Homo sapiens: one gene and its partners. The protein of the gene in region 2 purifies or fractionates together with the protein of the main gene of each other region. This does not show direct contact. Each region holds a gene or a part of one and is shown on either strand. Other genes may lie near its edges.

Region 1 (3,748 bases), on a different chromosome or scaffold from region 2:
ATTCCCATCTCTATAAAAAATACAAAAATTAGCCGAGCGTACTGGTGCACGCCTGTGGTCCCAGCTACTCAGGAGACTGAGATGGGAGGATGGCTTGAGCCCGGGAGGTCCAGGCTGCAGTGAGCCATGATTGCACCACTGCATTCCAGCCTCGGCGACAAAGTGACGCCCTGTCGGGTGCAAAAAAAAAAAAAAAAAAAAGAAAAATCCATACTAAGGAAATATATGGATGTGTGCCCAACTAGGATATAACCCTTCTTGTCATCAGTGGTCCCAACTGCTTCAACACTGTTGAGCAAGTTTTATGGGATCCAGCCTGACACATTTCAGGGACCCAGAAATGAATTTACAATTTGAGTCCTGTCAACCTCTTCAAAAACATTCAGTAGCCAACAAGACATGTACTGATGCAAGATCTTTAATAAATATGACTTCCTCTCTCTCCCAAAAGCAGTTATCTGGACAAGCAGTTTAAGCATCTCCAGTTTTTAGCTAGGGGAAATATGACTGAAGCCTTACTTTTTTGAGTCCATATCCAATTTGTAATAGAAAATAAAAAAACAGGATTGAAAAGCCAGTTACCCATGAAAAGCACACTCAAGAGCATTCCTATGGGGAGTCTGCCTCTTAAGGAAACATCAATACAGAGGACACTAACTTTGTAACGCATCCTAGGGCTTTAATCCTCACAGTACAGTATGTAAATCAATAAACGTACCAATTACATAGCTGTTACAGAACTTACAAAGTATACTGATCCGCAATTTTAAAAAAATCTAAGCCTACATTCCCTTCACCTAAAAGCCTCTCAAAGCAAATTCCAGCTTAAACGCTGGGTATCTACACTTGCAGAAAAATGTTCAAAGTAATGCACTACTAAATTTAGTTAATATTTAGTCCATGTAGTGAGTCAGAATGAGATTACCACTTAATAGGAATGAAATAGTTATACAATGTTACTAACTTCGCCACCTAAAAAGAAACACTATTTCATTAGTGGCAAACCTTACTTTTGTATAGCGATGGGGGCATTTGGAGGCAGGAGGCTTCTTCAGGTCAAGGAAAGCATCTCCACTTTCTGTTTCACCCATACTTCTCCTATCCATGGCTCCTTGGTCTACAATGCTCTGCACCTGGAAGATAAATCGGCACAAAATTGTCACCGAGAACAGTAAGTTTTCAGAAATCTTGGCTGTTTCTTCAGAAGCTGAAACTTTTTAATCTCTCAAAACAGCTAGTGTTAAAAACAAGTCCCCACCCCAAAATTATGCTATAAATTAGAACTTGGAGATAGAATCATTGGTACTCAGTTCTCTTTCCTAGTATCCTAAGCATCAACATGGTAAAAAGTAGAAGGTGCCCAATTCAAGGTATATAACCTTTAAGCAGCTTTAACACAAGAGAAACCAAGATTAGTAGCTGCCACCCATGGGGATCTTTCAAGACTGGTGGGGAAGTTTCCCGGAGTGGGGGCAGGTAGAAGACTGGTTAGGCTGGGAACCCGCGAAGTCTGTTGGAAAGTGCCTGTCACTTGCCAATGGACGGCGCCAGCTGCCCCTTGTTATCCGGCGATCAGGGACTGGGGACGGGGCCCGAGCGCCCCTCGCCAGGCCAGCCGCACCTGTGGCCATGTCAGGGGCGCCGATGGCAAGGAAAGGGCGAGCACCGGCTTCAGCTCCGAAACTTGGCTTCCCCGGGCCGCGACCCCAACCCGCAGCCCCTCACGCAGGCCCGGGCCCAGCGGCCTCCTTCGGAGGAAGGGCGGAGACCGTACTCACTGAGGGGCGGCCGGCCGCAGGGAGGAGGGAGGCCGAATCTCCCGGCCCGGGCGCTTCAAGCTGGAGCTAGCGCAGGCCCGCAGCCGTCCTCCCCGGCCCGGCGGCTCGGTCCCCGCCAGCCAGCCCGCCGGCTACCCGCCGGCCGCCTTGCGGGCCTCGCGCCCCTGCCCACCCCCTGCGGGCGCCCCGGCGCCCGCGCTCACGCACGCGACCCCGGGAGCAATGCGCCCGCGCCCCTTCTACACCCGGGAGCACCGGGCGCGCGGTGCCCCGGACCCAGCCGCCACCGCCGCCGACCCTTACTCGGTGCCTCCGCCGCTCGGCGGCCCTTTGCCTCGGCCGCCGCTCCCCTCCCCGCTGCCCGCACCGGTCCCAGCGCCGCTCCCCGCAGCCTTCGCTCTCGCGCCCCCACCCCGACCGGCTTGGGCTGTCTCTCTTCAGCCGCCGTAACTGCAGCCCGGCCCTCCGCCCCTCCTCTTCGGCCCCCTCCCCCTTAATAACTCCCTCCACGCACCCTGGCCCCGGCGCCGCCTTCCCCGCCGCGCGCCCGGATGTGAGGTGGCTGCAGCGGTGCCGGGCGAAAAAGAAGCATCGCCGCGCGCTTCCCGGACGCCAGCCCCTGCGCGGGCCGGGGGGTGGGAAGGTGGTGGCGGCGAGGAGGAGGCCACGGTGGGGATAGCGGAAACCCGCTCCCGTGCGCGCAGGCGGTCGCCGTGGGCAGCCCAGAGGCCACCGCCGCCGCGTTCCCACGCGCGCTGCAGGGCAGAGCGGACGGCACTTGGGACCCGCGACTCGCGGCACGCCACTCTCCCGGAGGCGGTGGCTAGATGGGGCTGGGCTGGCGGCTAGCACGGCCTGTGGCGCGACGACCGCTGTATTTGCATGGTTCGCATAGGCAGAGAACCGTGGGGCTTCGGCAGTGGGAATTTGAGATAGGAGATTGGGGTCTTCCGAGCCTTCCCAGTGCGGGTTCGAACCTCAGCTGTTTTGCGAGTGGCGTGATCTTAGGCAAAGCTGACTTAACCTAAGTTTCGGTCGTGTTTCTAAAATGGCCTCTGTAAATCTATGAGGCTTATGCGCGAGTACTGGTTGCTGCATTAAAAGACAAACTTGTCACGATTGGCTTTGATAGCGATAAAGGCGACTAACAAATTCATTGAAATGTTGTTTCCCTCCGGTAACCTGAATCTGTCCTTAGCCTGCACAGAAAGGGGAAGTGCGAGTGGAGTTGGGGAAATGAGACGGCGAATGTCAAGTGCTTACCACGTAGTGCAGACTCAGGCTGACAGGGGGCCACAGAAATGCAAATATGTGAGCAGTGTGGGTAACTGCATCCTGGGGAGGAAGTCCTATGTGCTGGAATACCACAAGCACCCATTTCTGCCCTGTGGTACTGCGCAGCGTTGGTGTGAAGCGATACATAGGCGTGAAGTCCCGAGAACGCAATTTTCCTGGTTAAAGGACAGCAACGTCTACATTTCTTCCAAGAGGCCTACTTTGTTGGAACTTCACTTCACTTGTGAAATTAGGGTGTTGGGCAGTGAGTGACCACTAACTCAGCTCCCTTCTTGTGAATCTTGGCAACAGAAAACTTTTCGTTTGTATTACTGAATAAAGTGTGTTTCTTACAAACTGTTTTTTTACAGGCAAGAGGCAGAGGGAAACACTTGCACATCAGGCCTGAGTTTGCATTCTCATCTCTGCCACCTCCTACAAGCTATGGAGAGTTAGTCTATTGATTCTTAGTTTTACCTGTGAAATTGCGAAGATGATATAACCTGCTCATGGGGCAGTTAAGATTAAACAGGATAAGGTGGGTAAAAAACCATATATAACCCATAAAGCTGCTGAGCCTTTTTAAGCCTATACAGAGACACGTTGCAGGTGATAATACAGATGTTATTATTTTAACAATCAAGCTGTTTTTGGAATCCAAATTCTTCCTAAAGCTGTGGGAAACAGGTCTAATC
Region 2 (3,648 bases):
GAGGAACTAATTAAGAATTTAAAGGAGACACACATATTTTAAAAAGAAAATAGTGGAAATGGAAAAGACAGATTGAGATATAGGAAGATACTGGATAAAAAGCCACTGAAGCAGTAAAACCAACTGGATTACCATGTGAAACACTAAAAATGTGACCAATAATTTTGCCATTATTATTATTTTTGAATGAGTGATATTTTATATATTTATTATTTTATTATTTTTATTTATTTATATTTTTGAGACAGAGTCTTGCTCTGCTGCCCGGGTTGGAATACAGTGGTATAATCTCAGTTCACGGCAGACCTGACCTCCCGAGTTCAAGCAATCCTCCCACCTCAGCCTCCTGAGTAGCTAAGATGACAGGCGTATGCCACTATGCTCAGCCAATTTTGTTTATTTTTTTGTAGAGGTGAGGTCTCACTATGTTGCCCAGGCTGGTCTCAAACTCCTGGACTCAAGGTATCCTCCTGCCTTTGCCTCCCAAACTGCTGGGAATACAGGCATGAGCCACTACACCTAGTTTGGCTATTATTATTTTTACTGCTACTATTACAAGTCTGGCAAAATATAATAAAGTTCTGAACTAGGTACTGCAGATGAAGAATGTGAAGTCTGTTTGAAGGTATGAGAAAGAAGAAAATGGATTTTCAGCCTGGGCACTAATTGAGGGTGGAATGGCAATGAAACCACAGTTTCTTCTCTGACTTTTTTAGTCGAACTTTCTCAAAAGCTCCCCTTTTAGCTAAAAAGCTCTATTTCAGGTATGGACAAGCTGAATGTATTTCCTGGAGTCTCCCAAATTATCTTGATGTGAAATTCTGTATATAGAACTAGTTCGATTGGGTACAAACAGCATCTTTTTTCCTTAGGACTCCTTAATCCTCTTCTCTAGGCACTTCAAGTGGGGAAAAAAACTGAGAAGAGAAGCATGTTTCTGCTCTTTTCACTGCACACACACTTATCTTCTCTCTATCACAATGCTGCTGCTTGTAGAGCTCATTATGTACAGTGCCCAAGCTAGCCACTGAGGAAAGGAGACAACAATGAAGATATAGTCCACGGGGGTTACACTTATGTAAGATAGACAAACATTTAATAAACAGATCATGGGCCATAGTTTCTGTAAAGGGTTTTTATAAATAAAGTTTACAGCCATGCCCAATTTATGCATTGTCTGTGGCTGTTTTTTTGCTACAGTGGCACTGCTGAGTGGTTGTAACAGATTCTGTGGCCCACAAAGCCAAAAATGTTTGCTAGCTGGACTTCATAAAGAAGTTTGTCAAGCTCTAAAACAGGCCACTAATTAATTTTATGTGATAAGTGTTTGAAAGAGGAAGCTGGTTAGTATGAAGTGTCAGGGGAATTACCCTGAAAAAGCGAAGGATGAGCTAGACAAAGGAAAGGTCTCAAAGGCAAGGCTAGGAGTAACAGCATTATGTAAAAGACCTGAGGTGGGAAAGAGCACAGTGCATACCACAAACTGAGAGAAGGTCAGTGTGGCTTGAGTACAATTAGTGTTGTGTAATGAGATCAGAAAGGCAGACACAGATTAGATGATGCAGGGTCTTAGAGGCCACAACATAGATTTTATTTCTTAATCTACAGGACAATGAGAGGCTATCAAAGGCTTAGGTGAAGAAGGGTGGTATGAGTAAATCTGTGCTTTTAAAATATTTCTGTTTTAAGGGAAATAATGGGAGAAGGGGTGGACAGCGAGAGATTTAAGACTAGTGAGAAGGCAACAAGGGATCGAGAAAAGGAGATGACAGCTTGGATCACAAGGATGGAAAGAAGAATAAAGAACTGAGAAATATATAGGAAGATGAATTGGCAGAACTTTTTGACTGATTAAGCAGAAAAAGCTAAGGAAGGACAGCTGACAAATATGATTATTATAACACAGCATATATAACAGGCTGGATGGCTAAACTGGGTACACGAGGTGAGTACAATGGAAGGCAGGAGGAGGAGGTATGGGAGAAAATTAGCTCAGTTTGTTTAAAGTATCTAAAAACAAAATGAATATGCCCACAAAGAGTTGATAGACAGGGCAGGTGTGGTGGCTCACGTCTGTAATCCCAGTACTTTGGGAGGCCAAGGCAGGCAGATCGCTTGAGGTCAGGAGTTTGAGACCCGCCTGGTGAACATGGTGAAACCCTGTCTCTACTAAAAATACAAAAATTGGCCAGGCATGGTGGTGGGCGCCTGTGGTTCCAGCTACTCGGGAGGCTGAGGCAGGAGTATCGTTTGAACAGGGGAGGCAGAGGTTGCAGTGAGCCAAGATCATGCCACTGCACTCCACCCTGGGCGACAGAGCAAGACTCCACCTCAAAAAAAAAAAAAAAGTTGATACACTGGCCAGCAGAAAGTAGAAAAGCTGGGATCAATTTTTTGGTGAGGTCTCAAAAATGAAAGTCTTAGTTAAAAAACAAAACAACAAAAATTGGATAATAGTATTAAACCTTACATACATTAACTTTTAGGTCTCGGGTAAAGGGACATAGAAAAAGGGGTTAACCATAGGAGAAGAGAAAGAATACACAGGGAAAAAGAATGTTAAAAAGACCAAAAGCCGTAAAAAGGATATATATCTGCTTTACCATTTTGCCTGAGACTTTGCTGCTAGGTTTAACTGAATCTGAGCAAATAAGACTGCAAGTATTTTCATTCTGCACAGGTGCTCAGTATAAATATGGATTCCAGCTATAAAATGGTCTCAAAATATGACCACTGAGTAAAGTTCTAAATCACTTATGTAAATCTTGTACCCAGATCTTATATGTTTTGTTGTGAGGCAGAGTCTTGCTGTGTCCCTCAGGCTGGAGTGCAGTGGTGTGAACACACTCACTGCAGCCTTGACCTATGGGGTTCAAGCAATCCTTCCACTTCAGTCTTTTGAGCAGCTGGGACCACAACTGTGGGCCACACAGCTAATTTTTAAATTTTTTGTAGAGACGGGGGTCTCCTTATCTTGCCCAGGCTGGTCTCAAACTCCTGAGCACAAGCAATCCTCCTGCCTCAGCCCCGCAAACTGCTGGGACTACAGGCATGAGCTATGGTGCCCAGCCCTTAACTTGCATTTTTGAAAGTCATCACAAACTTCAGGACTGTATATAACATTCCCATAAAAATCAAAAATTAAACCCATATGAAACAGAATTCTCAACACTTACTTTTCAAGCTCTTCCTGAGAATGGGCAAATGTACAATTTGTTCCTCGTGGACAACCCCCTTGCTGTCGCAAATCTCGGCACATGCTAGTCTTGTATTTGCTGTTTGGCTGAGGCTACAAAAATGGGAACACATTCAATGAGTGGCAAGGTGAAGATTCCATTTGTTATTCACTCTAGGAAGTTCAGAACTTTATAATTACACCTTTAATTCTTTTTCACATTAGACAAGTAATTCTTGTGCTGAAACAACTAATATTCCATTGTTTCCTGTTGTGAGTTATGTGACATAACCCTGAATTGGCACTTCAGATATTCCTTCTGAAGATTATTCGAAACTGGTTCAAATGTTATGTCCATTTATTCATTAGTTAACAGAATGCCCAGAAAAAGAAAATATTTTTTCATCAATTTATTGCTGTCTTAAAATTCTGCTACCAAAATCAAACAATTTTAAAAAGCATTAAAAAAAAAC
Region 3 (3,648 bases), on a different chromosome or scaffold from region 2:
AGCACACAAATGCCACTTCCTCAGTGCTTCCCCACTCCCTGAGTAACCCTCACCAGCCCCCTACATCAGGAACACTGAGACCCCACAAGCGCGGCCTTCTGAAGACACACAAAGCAGGTCTAAGGTAGATCTGGGCTGGGGACCACCTCAAAACGGAGTCCCTCCCCCAGTGGTTGGCCGGGCCCAGGAGGTAGGTGCCACCTTGGTCTTCAGGTCATAGCGTTCTTCCTTGTGCAGCCCACTGTCCACCACATGCACGATGTCATTGATTGTGATGGAAGTCTCAGCAATGTTGGTGGCCAAGACAATCTTGCGCACCCCAACTGGAGGCTGCTGGAATATGGCCTTCTGATCCATCATGGGGATGTTGGAGTGCACTGGTGGGCAAGACACACACCAGTTATGGGCACTGCTTCCACCAGAATTCCCCCCTGGAATGTGGGCAGGGCAAGGATTTTGACCCCATTTTGATGAAACAGGCGCAGATAAACACTATGCCCAGTGAAAAGTGCCACAGCTTGGTCAGAAACCGGGGCCCCTGGAGTCCCAGTTGGGTCAGTCCCTAGGACAGAGGTCAGGCTGGTTTCCAAAGGTCCCTGGTCCCTCCGCCGGGGCTCTCACCTGGCAGGATGAGGTACTTGCTCTCGTGCATGCCCAGGGCCTCCTGGAGGCGCTGCTGCACTCCTTTGATCTCCTGCCACCCAGGCAGGAAGCACAGGATCCCACCTGTAAAGGAGCCCTGGGGCATGAGCCAGCTGTTGCTGCAAACGTGGCCAGGGCTAGCATGGGACAGATGGGGAGGCACCCACCTGGTTCCCCGCGAGCATCGATGTGCAGAACCAGATCAGTCACAAGGTCCAAATCGAGTGCGCATTCATCCTCAGACTGGGGTGGGGGAAGAGAGGCCACAGTCACAGCCCCGGGGTAAGGGGTCATGCCAAGGACACAGCCACCTGACTCAGTGAGACGGAGCCGCTTGACATCAACTCCAATCCTCACGTGTGCCACGCAGGCAGGGTTAGTCCCCAGTTTCTATCAAGGAAACCGAGGACTGGGGAGGGTAACTTGCCCCAGGCACCAAGCCCCAGGGCCAGGGAGGAGGGGCATCCACGGAGGAAAGGCCAGGAGCCTTGGGTGGGATGGGGGTGTCCCTCACCTCATGGTGCCGGTGCCGGTGCAGGTACTGGTGCTTGCCCAACTTGGCCAGGATGTCCTCTAGGTAGTGCTCCTTGACTGGGTACATGAAGCCAGGCACCTTGATGACGGGGCAGCCACCAAAGTATCGGGAGAAGCGCTCATTGTCCCCTGTGGCACTCATGAGCACCAGCCGCAGGGCCGGGTTGAGCCGCTGCAGGCCCTTGAGCAGGATCAGCAGAAAGTCTGTGTTCACGTCCCGCTCATGCACCTCATCCACGATGACGTGGCTCACGCCCTCCAGGCTGGGGTTGCTCTGCAGCTTACGCAGCAGGATACCCACAGTGCAGAAGAGCAGGGCCCCGCCTCGGGATGGGGGCTTACTTTCCAACCGCACCTGGAAGCCCACATTCCGGCGCAGGGAGGGGCCCAGTTCGTGGCTGACCCGCTGTGCCACAGACACAGCAGAGATGCGGCGAGGTTGGGTGATGATAACATTGCAGCGGGCACCTCGGCCCTCGGTCACATAGCGCTCCAGCAACAGCTGGGGGATGCGCGTGGTCTTCCCACAGCCCGTGTCCCCAGAGATGACCACCACCGGGTGCTGCTCAATGGCGTTGAGGATGGTGTCCCGATGTGGGTCCACAGGTAGCTGGGGGGCCTCCTGCCAGACCGGCCCTCGCCGCCGCCACAGTTCTAGCAGACTCTGGCTGAGACGTACCTCCTCTGCTTCCAACAGGGGCACATAGGGCTTGCCTGTGATAGGGTCACTCAGAGGCCCTGAGTCCTTGCCCAAGGGCAAGATGTCATCACTCTGCAGCCGGAGTTCTGGGGCGATCCATGAACTCTCCACAGGGTACTGGAGGGCAGGGAGGCAAGCAAAACAATGAAAAAGAAATTCCTCATTCACACACAACCAGCCACTCTGCAGGATTCGCCTGGGTCAGATGTTGTGGCCCAACCCGCTGGGCAGAGGATTAATTTAGTCCATGACTGCCCCGGGATCCTTGTGGGCAAGACTGGGCTGTTCAGGCCAGGGGGATCCCAGGCCCCAAACTCAGTGAAGAGAATGGGGAGGTACTACTGCCTGTCGCAGGTGGAGGCCTTCAGTCTGGAGAGATGGAGGCAGACTACAGGGAGCAGGGGTGGTGAGGGATGCAGGGCCTCTTACATGGTTCAGGAAGGTCTCTATCTTGCGGAGGATGGGCTCGGGCACCTGGATGGTGCATGGTCGGCGCTGGGTCTCACCCAGCTCACGCAAAGAGGCCAGGTTATACATGGCGTGTGTAAGCGGTTCGTTGTTCCTGTCCACCAGGCCCAGGCTCTGCAGGGGGACATGCAAGACTCAGTCTATGCTCTGGGGCTCCCCAAAAACCAGCCCAGACAAGCTCAGGAGCTCCAACGCATAAGTTGTGCCAAGTAATCTCTAAGAGATTTTGGATTTTGGCTGACATGGTGATGGAGGGAGAAATTATGAACTAGGAAAATGTTAACTTACCAAAATAAACGTTTTAAAAAATGAACTAAAGTTAATTCAGGCCGGGCGCGGTGGCTCACGCCTGTAATCCCAGCACTTTGGGAGGCCGAGGCAGGCAAATCACCTGAGGTCAGGGGTTCGAGACCAGCCTGGCTAACATGGTGAAACCCCATCTCTACTAAAAATACAAAAATTAGCCAGGTGGGGGGCCGGCACCTATAGTCCCAGCTACTAGGGAGGCTGAGGCACGAGAATCGCCTGAACCCTGGAGACACAGGTTGCAGTGAGCCGAGATCATGACGGTGCACTCCAGCCTGGGCGACAGAGCGAGACTCTGTCTCAAAGAAAATAATAATAAAGTTAATTCAAGAAAAGCTAAACCTGATGTGTCACAGCAGAACAGCCCTACGTCTGGAGAAGGCCCTGAGGAGAAACCACTCACTGTGTGGCTACAGCCCCCCCAACACCACAATAGGCCACTGTCACCTCTGTGAATTCCCAACATGTACCCTCAGACCAGCCAGGCCAGGCCCTCGATGCTAGAACGCACCCCACAGACTCCCTCTTCCTTTGCTGCCTCATCAAAGCCTTCCTCCCCTAATCCTTCCATCCCGCCTCCCAATCCCTACATGGCACCCGACCCATCTGTGACCCCATCATATACAGATGCACGTGGAATTTCCTGTAAATGTCGATTATAATGCAACTTGATCAAACAAGCCACTGGAAGGAAAACACTGTGTCTTACCTCCCTACATACCTAAAGCCACCTCACCAGAGATAAAACATAGCATTCCAATACCTCACGCACATGGGTAAAACTAGTCTTGTGTTCCTGTCACCTCTAATGGCTGGACTCTGCTCACCCTTCGGAGCCCAGATCAAACACTCCCTCCTTAAAGAAGTCTTCCCCCAACAGGGGCCAACCCCCTGCCTCTGGGCGTGCTGGCACCATCAGCTATAAGGACCTAAAGGACAGGAATCTGGTCCTCATACCACAGGAGGTGCCAACACAAGCTCCTTGCTGCAGGAACAGG

Evidence for each region.
Region 1: the proteins of RC3H2 (region 2) and EIF4ENIF1 purify together in Homo sapiens (affinity purification with mass spectrometry, with the first as the bait; one large-scale study listed by BioGRID). This does not show direct contact.
Region 3: the proteins of RC3H2 (region 2) and DHX30 purify together in Homo sapiens (affinity purification with mass spectrometry, with the first as the bait; 2 studies listed by BioGRID). This does not show direct contact.

The regions. Positions count from the first base shown.
Region 1 is NC_000022.11:31,487,613-31,491,360, forward strand, and holds the start of EIF4ENIF1 (eukaryotic translation initiation factor 4E transporter), read right to left. Parts: upstream 2,231-3,748; 5' UTR 2,082-2,230; intron 1,945-2,081; exon of another isoform or gene 1,632-1,944; coding exon of another isoform or gene 1,536-1,631; intron 1,134-1,535; coding exon of another isoform or gene 1,107-1,133; coding exon 1,011-1,106; intron 1-1,010. UniProt on the Homo sapiens protein: EIF4E-binding protein that regulates translation and stability of mRNAs in processing bodies (P-bodies). Plays a key role in P-bodies to coordinate the storage of translationally inactive mRNAs in the cytoplasm and prevent their degradation.
Region 2 is NC_000009.12:122,874,295-122,877,942, forward strand, and holds part of RC3H2 (roquin-2), read right to left. Parts: intron 3,290-3,648; coding exon 3,177-3,289; intron 1,075-3,176; coding exon of another isoform or gene 879-1,074; exon of another isoform or gene 1-878. UniProt on the Homo sapiens protein: Post-transcriptional repressor of mRNAs containing a conserved stem loop motif, called constitutive decay element (CDE), which is often located in the 3'-UTR, as in HMGXB3, ICOS, IER3, NFKBID, NFKBIZ, PPP1R10, TNF and in many more mRNAs.
Region 3 is NC_000003.12:47,844,510-47,848,157, reverse strand, and holds part of DHX30 (ATP-dependent RNA helicase DHX30), read right to left. Parts: intron 2,459-3,648; coding exon 2,306-2,458; intron 1,994-2,305; coding exon 1,157-1,993; intron 886-1,156; coding exon 810-885; intron 727-809; coding exon 622-726; intron 378-621; coding exon 202-377; intron 1-201.